2 separate regions of the Homo sapiens genome follow, and region 2 is linked to region 1. The links come from fine-mapping of genetic effects on gene expression. A gene starts in region 1. The other region holds a variant in brackets. All regions are shown on one strand. Distances are from middle to middle.

Evidence for each region.
Region 2: its variant is fine-mapped to the expression of ELOVL6 in fibroblasts (GTEx, PIP 0.97).

The regions. Positions count from the first base shown.
Region 1 is chr4:110,195,195-110,203,527 of GRCh38, forward strand. It overlaps ELOVL6 (ELOVL fatty acid elongase 6), which reads right to left and starts at 3,421. Exons shown (of 4, transcript NM_024090.3): 1 at 3,053-3,421. The coding sequence starts at 3,141. RefSeq lists enhancers at 1,119-1,413, 3,002-3,794 and silencers at 1,148-1,257, 1,458-2,087.
Region 2 is chr4:110,161,195-110,169,527 of GRCh38, forward strand. The region is part of intron 1 of ELOVL6 (ELOVL fatty acid elongase 6); the gene reads right to left. Among named protein-coding and RNA genes, the nearest start is that of ELOVL6, 33 kb to the right of the region's middle. The variant G/A (reference allele first, on the strand shown) is at 4,733.

The DNA.
Region 1 (8,333 bases):
TTAATTTGAACCTCCCGGGTTCAAGCAATTCTCCTGCCTCAACCTCCCGAGTAGCTGGGATTACAGGCACCCGCCACCACGCTCGGCTAATTTTTTTGTATTTTTAGTAGAGATGGGGTTTCACCATATTGGCCTGGCTGGTCTCGAACTCCTGTCGTCAGGTAATCCACCCACCTCAGCCTCCCAAAGTGCTGGGATTACAGGCAGGAGCCACCACACCCGGCTAATAAAATTAAATTTTAAAAAGTGTTTAAAGTCTTTTTGGCTGTACAGTTTTTGGGGAGGGAGGAGAGATAAAATTGGGCACCCTGGGATATTGGGAGAAATGCACAAAATCTGGCATTTAAAAAAAAACATGAAAGTAAGACAATTAGGGTCAGGAAGAGTTGCAAGGGAGGGGTAACAGCCAGCAGGGTTCTTTGACTGCAATAAGCAATCTAAGAACATAACATCAACAGAGAGCAGAAGCCAGGAAGGGAAAAATCCCAAGATGTGACTCTGCCACGGTATGCAAGTTCTAGCCTGTTAACCTTCGGGTATTAACGAGTAGTGCTGGCAATAAAATGGGCACCAATCACCATTTCAACTCACTGGACATTTTCTCAAGAATGTGCCTTATGCAAAGCACTCTGCTAGGTGCTTTGCAGAATCAAGAGTGGGATGACAAGAACCGTAACCTGAAGAGCTGATGGTCTGTAAGTTAATAACCATGTATATAACAGTAAAGGATATTGCCAGAAGAAAGGTACAGATAAAGAACTAGGAGGAAACAGTGGTCAGAACCTAACAGGAGTAGATACGTTGGCACATTTTTGTCATTTTCAGTCCCACGAGGGCTGAGACCTGTCTGGCTCAGTACTGAGTGAATGGAGAGAAGAGGCGGGAAATGGTACCTGAAGCAGGCCTAGGAAGTGGCCTCAGAGAAAAAGCAACAAGTAAATAAGAGGCAGTATCGACTGCAGTGGGCTAGGAATGGCGGGCGTACAGTGAATGGGGTCAGCCAGCAAAGCGAGGGAAAGCGGACTCCGGAAGAGCAGGTTAAACCAGGACGCAGCAAGTCAGAGATTCGGCACAGAAGCAAATGCTGACCACACTGACCACACAGGCTAATGCGGGAGGACTGTGGGCCCGAACAGGCCGGCTGGAGGATATGACAAACATGTGCGGAGAAGACCCGGGCCCGGGGCTAGCCAGCAGCGCGGTTCCGGCGCCCGCCGGCTCCGGCCACCGCCCCCTCCCCGCCTCCAGCACCACCCCCTAAGCGGGAGGAGGAAGTGCATCCAGAGAAGGACCCCGGGCGGTGGGGCTCGAGGGGCCTCGGCTGCCCCGAAACGCCGAGGTCTATCTGCGGTCTCGACCCTTAGTGTCCAACCTCCTTCCGGACCCACCCCTGCACCCCCTGGCCTCAGCGGCCCGGGAGGGCACCAGCCCTGTGCCTGTGTGGCTGCTGCACTTCCAGTCCTTCCGAGCGGCCCGCGTCCCCGCCTCTTAGGCTCCGGCTCGGGCCAGACGCGGCCCTTGGGCCCCTAGCCCACCGCCGCCACCAGCCACGCCGCAGCTCACCCCAAGCAGGCCTGCCCCGCCGGTGCGCGCGGCCCAGGAGGCGGGCTCCGCCCGGCAGCCGCCGCAAATGGCCATTGGGGCCCGGACCAGCCCGCGGGAAGCTGGGAGTGGGCGCGCTCCGGCCGGGCGGGAGGAGAAGGAAGCGGCGGCCGGGCCTCCCGACACTGGCCGGCGACTCCAGGGGGCTGGAGGACAGGAAGTTGAAACCCCCTTTTCGCAGCTGCGGCCCCGTGGCACCAGCTCCTACTGCACCAACCCGCCCAGGCCACAGGCGCGCCGGCGTTTCTGGTTTCCAGTTGAAGAGGGCAGGCGGGAGGGCGCGGGGCACGCGCGCTCGCGCACGCGGCGGGCGGAATCCCCCGGCTCCCGGGAGACCCTGCGGCCCGACCCTCCCCGGTCAAGCCATCCCCCGGGCTGCCGGCCCCTTGCCTAGCTCCGGGGTGCGTTGGGCTTGAACTTTACAGATCGCCAGACCCGAAGTTAAGGGGAGGAGAGGAATGCCTCTGCCACAACCCTGTCTACAAGAAGCGAGATGAGCACACCCTCCTCTGTTAAATATTGCAAGGTGACACTGGATCGCCTCCCACACAGGGATTTTCAAAAGGTCTGGCGGGGGGACTACAGTAAACAAGAAAGGTGTTTTCCCTGATTATTAGTTTCCTAGGGAAGAGCCCCTAAGGACTCTGCAGACGGAGGGGCTTTTAATCTGTGTGCCTGAACTCCAATCAGCAGCTACGCACAGAATTAGAAGTGTGTCCAAAAGGCGTTTCCGTAAAACAGAAACTTAATAATGGCGTGGCTCCACTCGCTCGGGTTCATTCATTTATTACTGTTTTCATTGTCCCCTCCTCCCTCCCACCCGGTCTCTCTATGAAACCGGAAAGGGAACCGCGTGGGGAAAGGGGTACTAAAAAGGGGGCATCCGCCTGAGGAGCGGCAGACAGAGGAGGACGGTGAAGTAGGAGCGCTGCAAGGAGAAAGGAAGGACACGAGGGATGGAGAGACAGCGAGGACCAGGGCCAAGGGCGGCGGGCGGGAGAGGGTTAAAGGCAACAGGAGACAAGGTCCTCCCTCCACTGCCTTTCACACTCCGGTTGCGGGAGAGGCCAAGCGAGAAAACCCAAATCTAGATGAAAACCGGGGGAGGGGAGGGGAGCACAGGTAGGCGATCTGGACTGTGGCATCTCTCCCGCCTTCCCTGTCGCGCAGACATCACCCTGTGCACACACATATGTTCTGTGTTATATAATCTATATAAAAGATGCCTATGTAGCCGCGGTTCACACAGGGGCACCCACAGACCTCGCGCTTCATGTACCCCCCCCCCCCCAGCGTCTCCTGCACCCGGGAGACCCGAGAACTCAGCGATCAGCTGGCTGCCCGCGATTCATCGCTCCATTCACGCCCAGGCAGGGAATACCGACATTAAGGCACTCCGGGAAGACGCGCAGGGCTCCCGGGAACAGTATCAGGCGAAAGCATCACGTACCAGTTTTCCTGCATCCATTGGATGGCTTCATTCTCGTTGAACTGCTTTTCGAATTCATATTCTTGTAAAGTCAACACTGACATGTTCATTGGGGCTGATCTTCGGAGTCGCTACGTGTTCTCTATACAAAATAAAATAATCTGTAAAGCGCTTGATTTCGAGTGTTCTCCTGTCTGCTTCCCCCACCCACCCCCCTAGGTCTTCCCCACGCCGCTCGGTCTCCAGCGGTCGTCTCTTCTCCCAGCCTCTCAGCTACATCCAGGGCTGAGCATTGCCTGCGCCTCCGCTCCCAGCTCCTCTCTCTGGGGCTCTCCTCCTCCCGGCGTCCGCATCCACCGTAGGAGGAAATGAATGCCTTGCGGTCTTAGTGCCCGCACGTTTGTCCATCACCCTTTTTACTCGTCTACAGGGAAATCTCCTCCCCCTCGTGCGATTTGAGAAATTAACCCTTGGCGAGGGAGTGTGCGAAAGAGCGCGACCTCTCTCCGCCCGGGGGGGACAGTTTTGTTTACAGCGAAGGTGGTTGGAAGAGTGGGGGAAGGGCGCAGAGAGAAAGGAAGTGGCCTGGAGGTCATCCAGATCCCCTAAGCCCAACCTCGTGGGCCGCCTTGCTTTGAATGAAGTTTCAGCTTGCAGGGCGCATCCCCGCGGCGCGTGGACCCGAGAGCTTGGCGAGTAAACGATTGGGAAATAGTAAAACCTGCCAGCTCTCTTGCAAGAGAACTCCGGGCAAATCTACGTTGAGATCACCAGTGAAGGGAATACGCTTCCCACCTCCTCGCCCTACCTCTGGGACCACCCCCACCCCTACCCCCACCCCCACCCGGGAGCTCTGGCTTAGATTCACGCTAACCCAGGCCCTGCGGACGGCAGAGCTCCTTAATCTCGTACAGACAGGGGATGCTGAGTGTGAGGATAGTGGATAGGCGAGAGAGGCTAGTAGCCGGAAGTGGAAGAAAGGGCTGGGTTAGGTGGAGGGTTTAGGTACCGGGAAGGGGGGGATTAATGAACAGAGGCAGAGTGGGGAAGGAAGCTGACAGGAGAACTGGACCGACTGGCCAAATGCAAAAACTTTATTTGCATGCATGAGAAATTTGGCTTTACTTGCTGTACTTGTAGGTAGAACAGAATATGTGAGGAGAGGGCTGAATGTACTGTTGACCCCTACTGGGCCCTCAGCCTCCAAGAGGAAAAACTATTTTCTATTCCATCCATCCCTCCACTCATTTCCCCCAAGAGTTTGGAAAAATGAAATATGAGACATGGAAGTATCTAATGATGTAATTGTAAACTTTACAAAATAATAAGGAGCCCTGCTTTTAAAAATTAGGTGGATATTAGGACCAGAAAGAAAATTCCCCTTCTGAGAACATCCCCCCACCTCCCCAGTAGTCCAAAAAGGGTACTTTCATTCAATTTAGATGCCTCTAACCCACAAAAAGTGGGAACTGGGAGAAAAATTTTTAAAGGAGGAAGGGACCGGCCGCGGTGGTGGCTCACAGAAGTAATCCCAGCACTTTGGGAGGCCGAGGTGGGCGGATCACCTGAGGTCAGGAGTTCAAAACAGCCTGGCCAACATGGTGAAACTCCGTCTCTACTAAAAATATAAAAATCAGGCAGGCGTGGTGGCGGGCACCTGTAACCTCAGCTACTCAGGAGGCTGAGGCAGGAGAATCGCTTGAACCCGTGAGGTAGAGGTTGCAGTGAGCCAAAATTCTGCCACTGCACTCCAGCCTGGGCGACAGAGGGAGACTCTGTCTCCAAACAAACAAACAAAAAAAAAAAAGAGGAAGGTCTAATGAGAAAGTAAAGAAATAATTTTTAAAATCCAGTACAATATATAGATTAAAGGGCTAGCCTAGTTGATTAGCAAATTAATGTATACATTGACACTGCCAAAGATTCTGTGTAGGGACTGTCCTCATCTCCCCCATTAAGGGTTGTCTTTCTTTTTTCTTTTTCTTTTTTTTTTTGAGATGGAGGAGTCTCGCCCTGTTGCCCAGGCTGGAGTGCAGTGGTGCAAACTCGGCTCACTGCAACCTCCGCCTCCCAGGTTCAAATGGTTCTCTTGCCTCAGCCTCCCCAGTAGCTGGGATTATAGGCAAGCACCACCACGCCCGCCTAATTTTTGTGTTTTTAGTAGAGATGGGGTTTCACCATGTTGGCCAGGCTGGCTGTGATCCACCTGTCTCAGCCTCCCAAAGTTCTGGGATTACAGGCATGAGCCACCATGCCCAGCCAAGGGTTGTCTTTCTAGAGACCTCTACAGTACAAGTCTACGTCACTTTGAAGTAAGGCCCAGGCCAAAACTCTTGGCAAGATTGGGCTGGAAGATAGGTGTGGCCAGATAAGAAAGAACCATTTTAGCACGGTGCCTGAGCCTGTGAATAATCAATAAATATTTGTAAAGTGAATGATTCATCAAATAAATTAAGGTAAGAAGTGAGAAAGGAATCAAGACAGAAAATCCACTTTGGGTGGCTGAGGCAAGACAATTGCTAGAGACCAGACTGGGCAACATAGTGAGGCTCCATCTCTACAAAAAATTAAAAATTAGCCAGGTGTGGTGGTACATGCCTGTAATCCCAGTTACTCTGGAGGCTGAGATGGGAGGATAGCTTGAGCCTGGGAGGTCAAGGCTGCAGTGAGCCATGATCACACCACTGCAGTCCGGCTTGGGTGACAGAGTGAGACCTTATCTCAAAAACAAACAAGCACTGTCAGTGACTTTGAAAACTGGTGACTCTGTATGGAAAGCAATTTGGCAGCCTATATGATAATTTCATTTATTTTTTAGAGATGGGGACTTGTTATGTTTTCCACGCTAGGACTATAGGCACCCAGCATATATCACAATTTTAAATCCACACCATTAATTCACCAGAATTATTTTTTTTTTTGAGATGATGTCTCCCTCTGTTGCCCAGGCTGGAGTGCAGTGGCGCGATCTCGGCTCACTGCAACCTTTGCCTCCTGGGATCAAGTGAGTCTCCTGTCTCAGCCTTCCAAGTAGCTGGGATTACAGGAATGTGCCACCATGCCCAGCTAATTTTTGTATTTTTAGTACAGACAGGGTTTCACCATGTTGGCCAGGACGGTCTTGAACCCCTGACATCAGGTGATCTGCCTGCCTCAGTCTCCCAAAGTGCTAGGATTATAGGCGTGAGCCATCGCACTTGGCCTACCAGATATATTTTGAGTACATACTCATCTGAGCTCTTGGGACTCACAAATGAGACAAACAGGGCTCTTGCGCACTTGGAGCTTACATTCCAGAAGGGAAGACAAAATAATTTCTTAGAGAATGAAATGCTAGGATTACAATTTAACAGCATGACATGAAGGCCTGGGAGTGCTCATTTAAACCTGGAAGGCCTCAGGGAGAAGGACTTTGAGTTGAGACCCCGCTGGCAAAGAGCCAGCCACCTCTTGCAGAAGTGTTACAAAGAAGAATGAGCAAGTACAAAGGCTCCTAGGAAAAGAATAAATTTGCGGGATTGAGGACAAAAGGCTGGTGTGGCTTCAGGCCATCAGTAAGGAGTAATTGAAAGAAACAGGTTGAAGAGACAGGCAGGGGTCAGATCTTGGCCACAGGTAAATCAAGATAAGGTGTTTAGATTTTATTCTCAACTGCAGTGGAGTGGAGGAGGATAAAAGAATGTTAAACCGAATAATAGCATGATAATTCCTAGTAAATTCACTGCTATGGATATACTCACCGAAACATTCCGGATATATGTCTAAGATATTCAGCATTGGGCTGGCATTATGCTTGTAATCCCAGCACTTTGGGAGGGCGAGGTGGGCTGATTGCTGGAGCCCAGGAGTTCAAGCCCAGCCTGGGCAAGATGGTGAAAACCTGTGTCTACAAAAAAAAAAAATACAAAAACATTAGCTGAGCATGGTGGCATGTGTCTATATTCCCAGCTACTCAGCAGGCTGAAGTGGGAAGATCACCTGAGCCTGGGGAGGTCAAGGCTGGAGTGAGCCATGATTGCGCCACTGCACTCCAGCCCGAATGACAGAGTGAGACCTTGTCTCAAAAAATGACAACACCAACAAAGAAAACCCCCACAAATATATTCAGCACTGTTTATAATAAAACACTGAAAATAATAGTTTAAGGGATAATTGGAAGGACAGCCAAGAAAGGAATGAGGTCAATAGACTCAAGTCAATGTGATTCATTGTCAGTCCTGGTGGGCTACCTCTTGACAAAAGCAGAGGAGGCAGCCCCGCTTACAGGCTATATAGCAAGGTTTTATAGGGCATATAACTGGGTCAGGGTGAAGGAAAAAGAAAAGGCCAGGGAGTAGGGGATCCTTTGTGCCAGGTGTCTGACCGCTTCCTGGAGTTGTTTTTCTTGCCAGTTCTGTTGTGTAAGGTAGACTTCTTGACCGCATCCTGGAACAGCTGGCCTCGGGTCCGACAGTTACAGGTGGGGCTTTGGGGCTTAGGTCTATGGGAGCGGGAAACAGTCCAGTTGGGTGGACCCTAACATTCCAGCCTTTTAACAGATGATAGAGAAGGGGCATTGATTTCATCAGACTGCTTCAGGCTGAGAGTGGGCAGGGGCTAGGGGAAAGGCTGGAAAGTGGAGGTTGGCTTTGGTTTTGAAAGTGTTGATACTCCTGGAGTAACATCATGACCTGTATGGTTCCATGGGCAAAGGCATGGATACGATTCTGCAAAAACTGGGTGAAGAGGAGTATTAGGCAAGGACCTAAGATTAGGAGGAGAAAAAGGATTACAGCAGGTCCAAGGAGAGAGGGTAGCCAGGCGGCCCAGGTGCTGAGAGATCAAGAGGGCCACGTAGAGGAGCTGCTTTCCCTGATCTTTTGGGCTCGATCTTTGAGATTTTGTTTGTTTGTTTGTTTGTTTTTTACTGCATCCTGAACTAAGCCTGACTGGTTAAAATAAAAGCAGCATTCTTCATCTAGGAAAATGCAGAATCCTCCTTTGTCGGTGGTAAGTAGGTTGAGACCTCTCTGATTTTGTAAGGCGACTGCCGCTAGGGAGTCCAGCTGAGCTTGTAAGGGGATATGGAAGTTGCAAGGTTGTCTATACCATCTGAAAGGTCTTTTGATAAGGTTTTATGGTAATAAGAGGAGGTTGCGATTCCTGCTACCCCTGTACCTGCGGCCACTGTGATGCCTAGGTCTACAAATAGTGGGATAAGTTGTATGGCCTGGCGCCTGCTGTGTGGGATTTGAGTATTTAGGGTTTGGAGGGGCAGGTTTTCTCCTGGAGCTATGTCTATTTTAGGGCTGAGGAAGACCAG
Region 2 (8,333 bases), 34 kb before region 1:
GAAGCTCGTAGTTTACTCAAATGAAATATGTCTGTGTATGTATAAAATATCTTCAAGATGCACTGTTAAGTCCATAGAGTAAGATACAAAATGCTATGTATTATATACTAGCATTTGTGTTCTTAAAGGAAAAAAATATATAGTCAATCCTCATTCACTGATTCTGTATTTGCAAATTCTCCTACTTATGAAAATTTAACCCCAAGTCTATACTGATGGCACTTTCATGGTCATTTTCAAACATGCACAGAGGGATGAAAAATTGGAGTTGCCTGACCTGCACATCCCCAGCTGAGGTGGAGCAAGGTGACACACTGCCTCCTGTTCAGCTCTCATACTGCAAAATAGGTGTCTCTTTTGCAGTCTTATTTAGTTCCATGTCTTTCCAATTTTTGTGCTTTGTGTTGGCAATTTCACGGTTTAAAATGGCTCCCAAGCTTACTGCTATCTCATGTTCCTAAGAACGAGAAGGCTTCAACAGGTCTTACAGAGAAACTACGTATGTTAGATAAGCTTCATTCAGGCATGAGTTAGTGCTGTTGGCTGTGAGTTCCATGTTAAGGAATCAACAATATATGTTAAATAAGGTATTTTAAGCAGAAACACACACAAAACTAGGTTATGTGTTGATCAGAAATATTGTAACCAAAAGCTCTCAGGAAACTAACGCTGTATTTCCCTAAGTGCAAGGGTTCCATATTCACAAGTTCAGTGTTTGCGGTGACTTTACAGAACATATCTACCTGGAATAATGAGAATCTCATTATTTGTAATTGCTTTTGTGCACACAAAACATCTCTGAAGAGCACACTGGCTATCCGCAGGGAGGAGAATTGTGTGGTTGGGGAAAGGGATGTAGTCCTTTATATAAAATACTTTTTCACTGCATACCCTTGTGGAACATTTTAAATTTTATACCATGCCTAGTTTATAATTGTTTTAATCTAAAGTTAAAAAATAAACTAAAAGAATGCTAACAGTAGAAAACTGAGCAAATGATTGAAAGATTACCCATAGTAAAATTAATTATAAAGGTAACAGACAACCAAAATTTTTTCTTAATTTTAGTCAGACTCAGTAAAACTTTAATGTAGTGATTTCAAGAGGCTGTGCTGAACCATTTTGCTGAATATAGACATCTTGTGGGTTGTGGGTTTATTTTATTTTTTGAGACAGGGTCTCAATGTGTTGCCCAGGCTGGAGTGCAGTGGCGCAATCACAGCTCACTGTAGCCTTGAGCTCTTCAGGCTCAGGTGATCCTCCCACCTCAGCCTTCTGAGTTGTTGAGACTACAGGCACATGCCACTATGCCTAATTTTTTTTCTATTTTTTGGATACAGGGTTTTGCTATGTTGCCCAAGCTAGTCTCCAACTCCTAGGCTCATGCAATCCCACCCACCTCAGCCTCCCAAAGTGCTGGGATTACAGGTGTGAACAACTGTGCCAGGCCTGAATATATAGATATTTTGGATGACTGTTTTCCCCAGAAAATTAAAGTTGCCATTTTCCTCCTGCCTCCCTACAGGAGGTTAATGAATGTGCTGAAGTACGCCAAATTTTAAGGTACACAAATGTGATATGCAACATAATAAATTCCACTGTTTACTGAGCTTCTACTACATACTAGTTAATAGACATTATTTAATTAGATTTTCACAACTCTGCAAAGCAGTTATTGGGACACTCATTGATGAAGAGAAAACTGAGTCTTCAGGAGTGAACAATTTACTTGAGGTCACCCAGATAGTCAGTGGTGCAGCTGGGGTTTGAACTAAATGGTCTGTGTCCAAGACTATGTAGGGGAAAATCAGTCCCTGTGAATGAAGAAAGACCCAATCATTTAGATAAAAATAGTACAGAATCACACTGAGAATATATGAACTCCAAACTACAATTCAAATGTGCAATCAATATCTGAGGTATTCAGACACAAAACAGAAAGCAGAAGCCTACTTGGGTGCGAAGCCATACACAGTTCACCTGAGGGGGCTTTGTATTTGTTGTGTCCTATCTGGATCTCTCTTCTCCTAGATGGGCCCAGGGCTAACATGGTCTTCTCATTTGCTACTAGGTCAGATGCCAATCCTTTAGTAAGGCTTTCCCTGACCCCCTAGCTAAAACAGCTCCCTCTGGCCCCAAGTCACCTCCTATCACACTATTTTCTTTATAGCAGTTAGCAACATCTAATGTTATTTTGTCTATATACTTGTTTACATGTTTAGTGTTTGTGTCCTAGTGGTATGAACGGTCTCTGAGAACAGCGGCCTTGTGCCTGGAACAGAGTCTGGCAAATACAGGCTCCTCAATAAATATTCATCAAACTGAGTCACTGAAATTTAACAGTTATGGACTGACCGCATAGTGTAGCAGACTGGGATGAAGGCCAAGTCTTATCATCAATGAGTATAAAATGCTAGAAGGGTGATATACAAGTCACAACTGACTTTAATATGAGAAAATCTACCACTGCCAAATGAAAAGCAAAAATGGAAGAGTTTAAGATTAAAAGTTCAAAACCTTAAAAGGTTGTATGAAGGTGGCAGCACTGAGTTGGGCTTTCTAAGTTTCAGAAATAGAGAAAGAAGAGAGATATTCCAGTGGTTTAATTTGCCAGGGTCATAAGATACTTATAGAGCAATGGGAGAACTAACTGTAAGATCGAATGGTGAGTTAAGGTCAAGGAATCTTCCTTATCAGGTGGGTAAATCTGAGTCATAGTGACAGGCAATTTGGGAGCAATGAAAAGTTCTTAGCCCTGGTTGTGACATGACATTTCTGAATGTGTAATGAGAAGTTCAAAAATGTTGGCTAGGAATTCATTACTCAGTTGAAAGCAAAATAATACTAAAATATCTGCTGAGAGTCATGCCAGTAAAAGCTACTTTTCATGGAGAGCCTAGAAAGTGCTGGACATTTTGTAAGCCATTGACACACCTTAACTAGTTTAATTATTACTACAGCCTAATTTGATTATCTCAATTTCACACTTAGAAATGGGGGCCTAGGGAGGTTAATGAATGTGCTCAAGTTCACCAAGTCATTAAGTAGCAAAGGCAGAATTGAAACTGTGTCTGAATCCACAGGTCCCAGAGTTTGATACACTGCTGCCCTGATGACAAGTTAAGGTGAGGGAAGATGAAGCCAAGGCCACCCTAGGAAAGGAAAAAGTAAAACGGTTTGTATAGCATGAGTATTCTGAGCTAGGCACTAAGGAAACACTTTGACCTAACTCAGCTTTCATAAGTCTGCCACAAGATGCCATGAACATTTGTCACAAGAAAGCAAGCACAGCCGGGTGAGGTGGCTCATGCCTGTAATCCCAGCACTTTGGGAAGCCAAGGCAGAAACAAGCTGAGGCAACGTGGCGAAAGCCCATCTCTACAAAAAATAGAAAAATTAGCCCGGTGTGGTGGCATGCACCTGTAGTCCCAGCTACTCAGGAGGATGAGGTGGGAGGACCGCTTGAGCCCAGGGAGGTCAAGGCTACAATGAGCCATGATCACGCCACTGCACTCCAGCCTGGGTGAAAGTGGGACCCTGTCTCAAAAAAAAAAAAAAAAAGAAAAAAAAAAAAACACTCAGGTTGGAAGGCAGGTGGGTTGGTAGGCTGCTCATTTATTTCTGATGAAAGAATTTCTTGTTTTGGGGAATTTCTTTTTTTTGAGACAGAGTCTCACTCTGTTGCCCAGGTTGGAGTGCAGTAGCACAATCACAGCTCACTACAACCTCTGCCCCCCAGGCTCAAGCAATCCTCCCACCTCAACCTCTCGAGGAGCTGGGACTACACGTGCACCCCACCACACCCAACTAAGAAAGGATTTCCTGAATGTAATGTGGTATGTGGCCTTTCTGTGCATTTAGTCTTTATCATGCCACCCAAATTGTGGTAAACATATAAGCTTGTAGAGCAGGTTTGATCTCTATTCTTCAAAAAGAGGACTGGTTTCTGACTAGCTGGACTAGCAAAACAGACCATTTGCTAGATATCTACAAACTATAAGCAACCCTCTCCATTATCCTCTCACAGAAAACAATACCAGGGCACCTGTTTAGTGGAACCATGTGCTATTGCCATTCATAGGCCAAAATAGTTAAGTATCGACAATTTACAGGAGGCCCTTCCACCATTATGTTCCTGATTTTGTGGTTCCTTCCTGTCTAGCAGACCTACTCCAACTCCTTAGCCTGGCTTCCAAGCTTCCAATCGACCCTCACAACCCAACTTTATTCCTCAAACCCCACATAAACCTTAGTCAGGCCAGGCTGATTCTCCTCTCAGCTACTGCTGCTCATCAAATCCTCCATTTTAATAGCACTGCAAGAAACAGGAGGGATGAGCTCAGGTTGTCTAGCTCAGAGACACAGCAGCCTGCACTTCAGCTTTGTTCTCTGTAGCACATGTGGCTGTGGTAGGCAGGAAGTAGCATGGTCTCAGGAGCTGGGCGGTTCTAATCTCATCTGAATCACACACAGAGATGAGTTAATCACTTCTTTGAGAGTCAGCTTCCTCAACTATAAAATAACAATTATGATGCATTCCTGTCAGAACTAACAGGAGGATTTTTGTAATAAAGTATGTGGAGCTGGCCAGGTAACACCTGCCTTGCAAAACCAAACATTTACCCATGCATTGGAGTGAACCCAAGGCTAATTCCCCAAGGACAATCCTATATCCTCTGCCAGAAGAGTTTAGCACATCTGGGAAGTGGGAAAAGAGGGTGGTCTTTTCCAC[G/A]TAAGAAAACCAGTTAGGCTTCTCTACATCCCTAACAAATTATCAACCCACGATCCTGCTTTCAATACATCTGCCTCCTCTGTCAGTGACAGAGCCTCAGCACTCCTGGGACAGCTTATCAACAAAAGCCCAGCTCAGAGCTGATCTGGAGGAAAGATACTGTCAGCCTTCCCCTGGGTACTATAAATCCCAGCCTGCTATCAAGTGAGATCCTAGAGAAGTTGCTCAAGGCACATTCATTTCGCCCCTGGACTGCAGTGTTCTTTGACATTATATCCCTGATTTTCCTTCAAATGTTGTTGTCTTTGGGCTAGGACCTTGGTTTGTTCTTAACTTACTTGAGCAATAATGAGACATCACCTTTCTTTTCAGATAACAAGAATTCTCTTAAATTCTTGTGTTTCAGCCAGGCGCGGTGGCTCACGCCTGTAATCCCAGCACTTTGGGAGGCCAAGGCAGGTGGATCACGAGGTCAAGAGATCGAGACCATCCCGGCCAACAACCGTGAAACCCCATCTCTACTAAAAATATAAAAATTACCTGGGTGTGGTGGTACGCGCCCTGTAGTCCCAGCTACTAGAAGGGCTAAGGCAGGAGAATCGCTTGAACCCGGGAGGAGGGGTTGTAAATGAGCCGAGATCGCGCCACTGCACTCCAGCCTGGTGACAGTGAAACTCCGTCTCAAAAAAAAGAAAAAATTCTTGTGTTTCCACTTTTGCCCTTGCTGCCAGAAGGCAATGAACACTGCCTGTTAATCTCAGCATGGTCAGCCCTCATGGTTAGCATATAAGACATCATGAGTATTCTGGTGCTACCACCATGAAAGGAAACTCCGTCTTCCTTTTTCATCAACCCAACTATTAGCTCTCAAAGTCCCTGCCTTTTGCTGGAGTGTTTCTAAATTTCTTAGCACATAGTGATTTTCTATACTATAGTTACTATAATACTATATTCCAGCACTGGAATATTTGTTCTTTTTCTGTAGCATTCTACTGTATTTTGCATGTACATCTGCCTTCCTAAACAGACTGTGATCCAAATAAGTTGAAATATATACAGAGGGTCTGTCTGTCTGCCAATGCTAGGACATTGCCTTCTATTTCTTTGTCTTCTCACCTGTCTCCTGCATGTCAGGCACACTCTCATCATTTAGTAATCACCAGCTGACTTGACCCAAGAAGACCAAACAGTCTGAATGCACACAGTAGCTGAAGATCACAGGGTTTCAGTATCTCTCCACTGGCAAAAATATTAGGTGCATTGAGACACACTTCTGGTTCTCAGGAATAAAAACTTTATCCCATCTTCAAAATGTAATCGCTATTAGAGTATTTTTACATGCACAGTAAAAGGACTTGTGTTTTAGTACATACAGCGTTAAGTACTTAACCTTATACTAACTGTAAATATGTCTCTCTCTGTGTGTGTTTACAAATTGGCCTTGTTATTATACATGCTGTTTCATAAGCAGAGTTTTCTGCAACATGTGGTATACATTTTTTTTGTCAAGATATATTCTTCTATAATATAGTTTTAATGGTTACATAAGAGTTACTAAAGGATGTTTTTTTGGTTGCAGAGAGGGGAGTGAAGGGGGAACATTATAAATTTTATTTATTTTCTTGAGGCAGAGTCTCACTCTGTTGCCCAGGCTGGAGTGCAGTGGTGCAATGATCCTCAGCTTCCACAAGTAGCTGGGACTACAGGGTGCCTGCCACCACCTCAGTTATGTATGTATGTATGTATGTATGTATGTATGTATGTATGTATGTATGTATGTATGTTTGTATGTAGAGACAGGGTCTCCCTGTGCTGCTCAGGCTGGTCTCAAACTCCTGGCCTCAAGCCATCCTCCCACCCTGGCCTCCCAAAGTGCTGGGATTACAGGCGTGAGCTGCTGCACCCAACCTCTCTTATGCTTTTGGAGAGAAAAAATAAAACACCTATCTCCATGATTAGGGCTATTCTAACAGTTTGTACAAAACTTTCTGAGGCCTTGAGAGGCAGAAACATATCCAGGCAATTAAGGAAGTTCTTTCTTGTATTTTTGATATATAATTTTAGATTAAATGCTTAATTCCAATTGGAAGGTATAGTTAGAAAACGTCTACTACTTAAGATTAATATTTTAGTGGAAATTTTGTCTTTGTATCAATTTATGAACAGAGCCAAAATTTAAGTGAACATAAAAGAGATTCAATGAAAAAAAGTTAAAACCCTTTGAGAGTAAATCATTTTTAGGTGTATTTTTAGCTTATTGCATGAGAATTATATGGCTATAAATCATTAGAGTAAGGGTCAAATTCAGGCCAGTGTGATGGCTCATGCCTGTAATCCCAGCACTTTGGGAGTCTGAGGTGGGCAGATTGCTGGAAGCCCAGAGTTCGAGACCGGCTTGGGCAACAAGGCGAAACCCCGTCTCTACTAAAAAAATATGCAAAAGTTAGCTAGGCATGGTGTTGCATGCCTGTAATCCCAGCTACTTGGGTGACTGAGGCACAAAAATCACTTGAACCCAGGAGGCAGAGGCTGCTGTGAGCCAAGATCGTGCCATTGTACTCCAGCCTGGGCGACAGAGCAAGACTGTCTAAAAAAGAAAAAAAAAAAAAGTCAAATTCAATGGATGCAATCAGAACTTTTTCAAAAACTGCTCTCACGTGCTTTCATTGTGCAGAGCTCATTTAAACAAAATGAGCCCCACCATATGCTTTTCAAAATATCACCTTTGAAAATGGTTTCTGTAATTTTCCCAGTAGGTGCTGACGTCATAAGCCAAAGCAGGAGAGACCCAGACTCTGTGGACAGGCAGTGTGGACCTAGACTGCCTGGGTTTGAAGCCTCACTCTGCCAATCACCAGGTGTCCCACCTTTTCCAAGTTACTTAACCTCATCTCCAAGACATGCCCAATCACAAAGCCTACTTCATAAAATGGAGGGTTAATTAAATTAATGTTCATGAAGCCTTTAGTGGGTACGTGGTAAGCTCAATGATTATTAGTTAATAATATCCTTATTAAACGTCCAGTAAGTCTTTTTTAAATGTTATTTTCTTTGAGAAAGGGTCTCACTCTGTCACCCAGGCTGGTTTGCAATGGCACCATCATGGCTTACTGTAGCCTAGACCTCTTGGGCTCAAGCAATTCTCCCATCTCAGCCTCCCAAGTTGCTGGGACTGCAGGTGTATGCCACCACACCTGGCTAATTTTTGTATTTTTGGTAGAGACAGGGTCCACCCACCTTGGCCTCCCAAAGTGCTAGAATTACAGGTGTGAGCCACTGCACCCGACCCCAACAGAGTTTTGGGGTTTTTTGTTTTGTTTTTTTTTTTTTGAGACGGAGTCTCGCTCTGCCACCCAGGTTGGAGTGCAGTGGTGCGATCTCGGCTCACTGCAATCTCTACCTCCTGGGTTCAAGTGATTCTCCTGCCTTAGCCTCCCTAGTAGCTGGGACTACAGGTGCCTAACACCATGCCCAGCTAATTTTTGTATTTTTAGTAGAGATGGGATTTCACCATGTTGGCCAGGCTGGCTGGCCTGTAACTCCTGACCTCAGGTGATCCACACACCTCAGCCTCCCAAAGTGCTGGGATTACAGGCGTGAG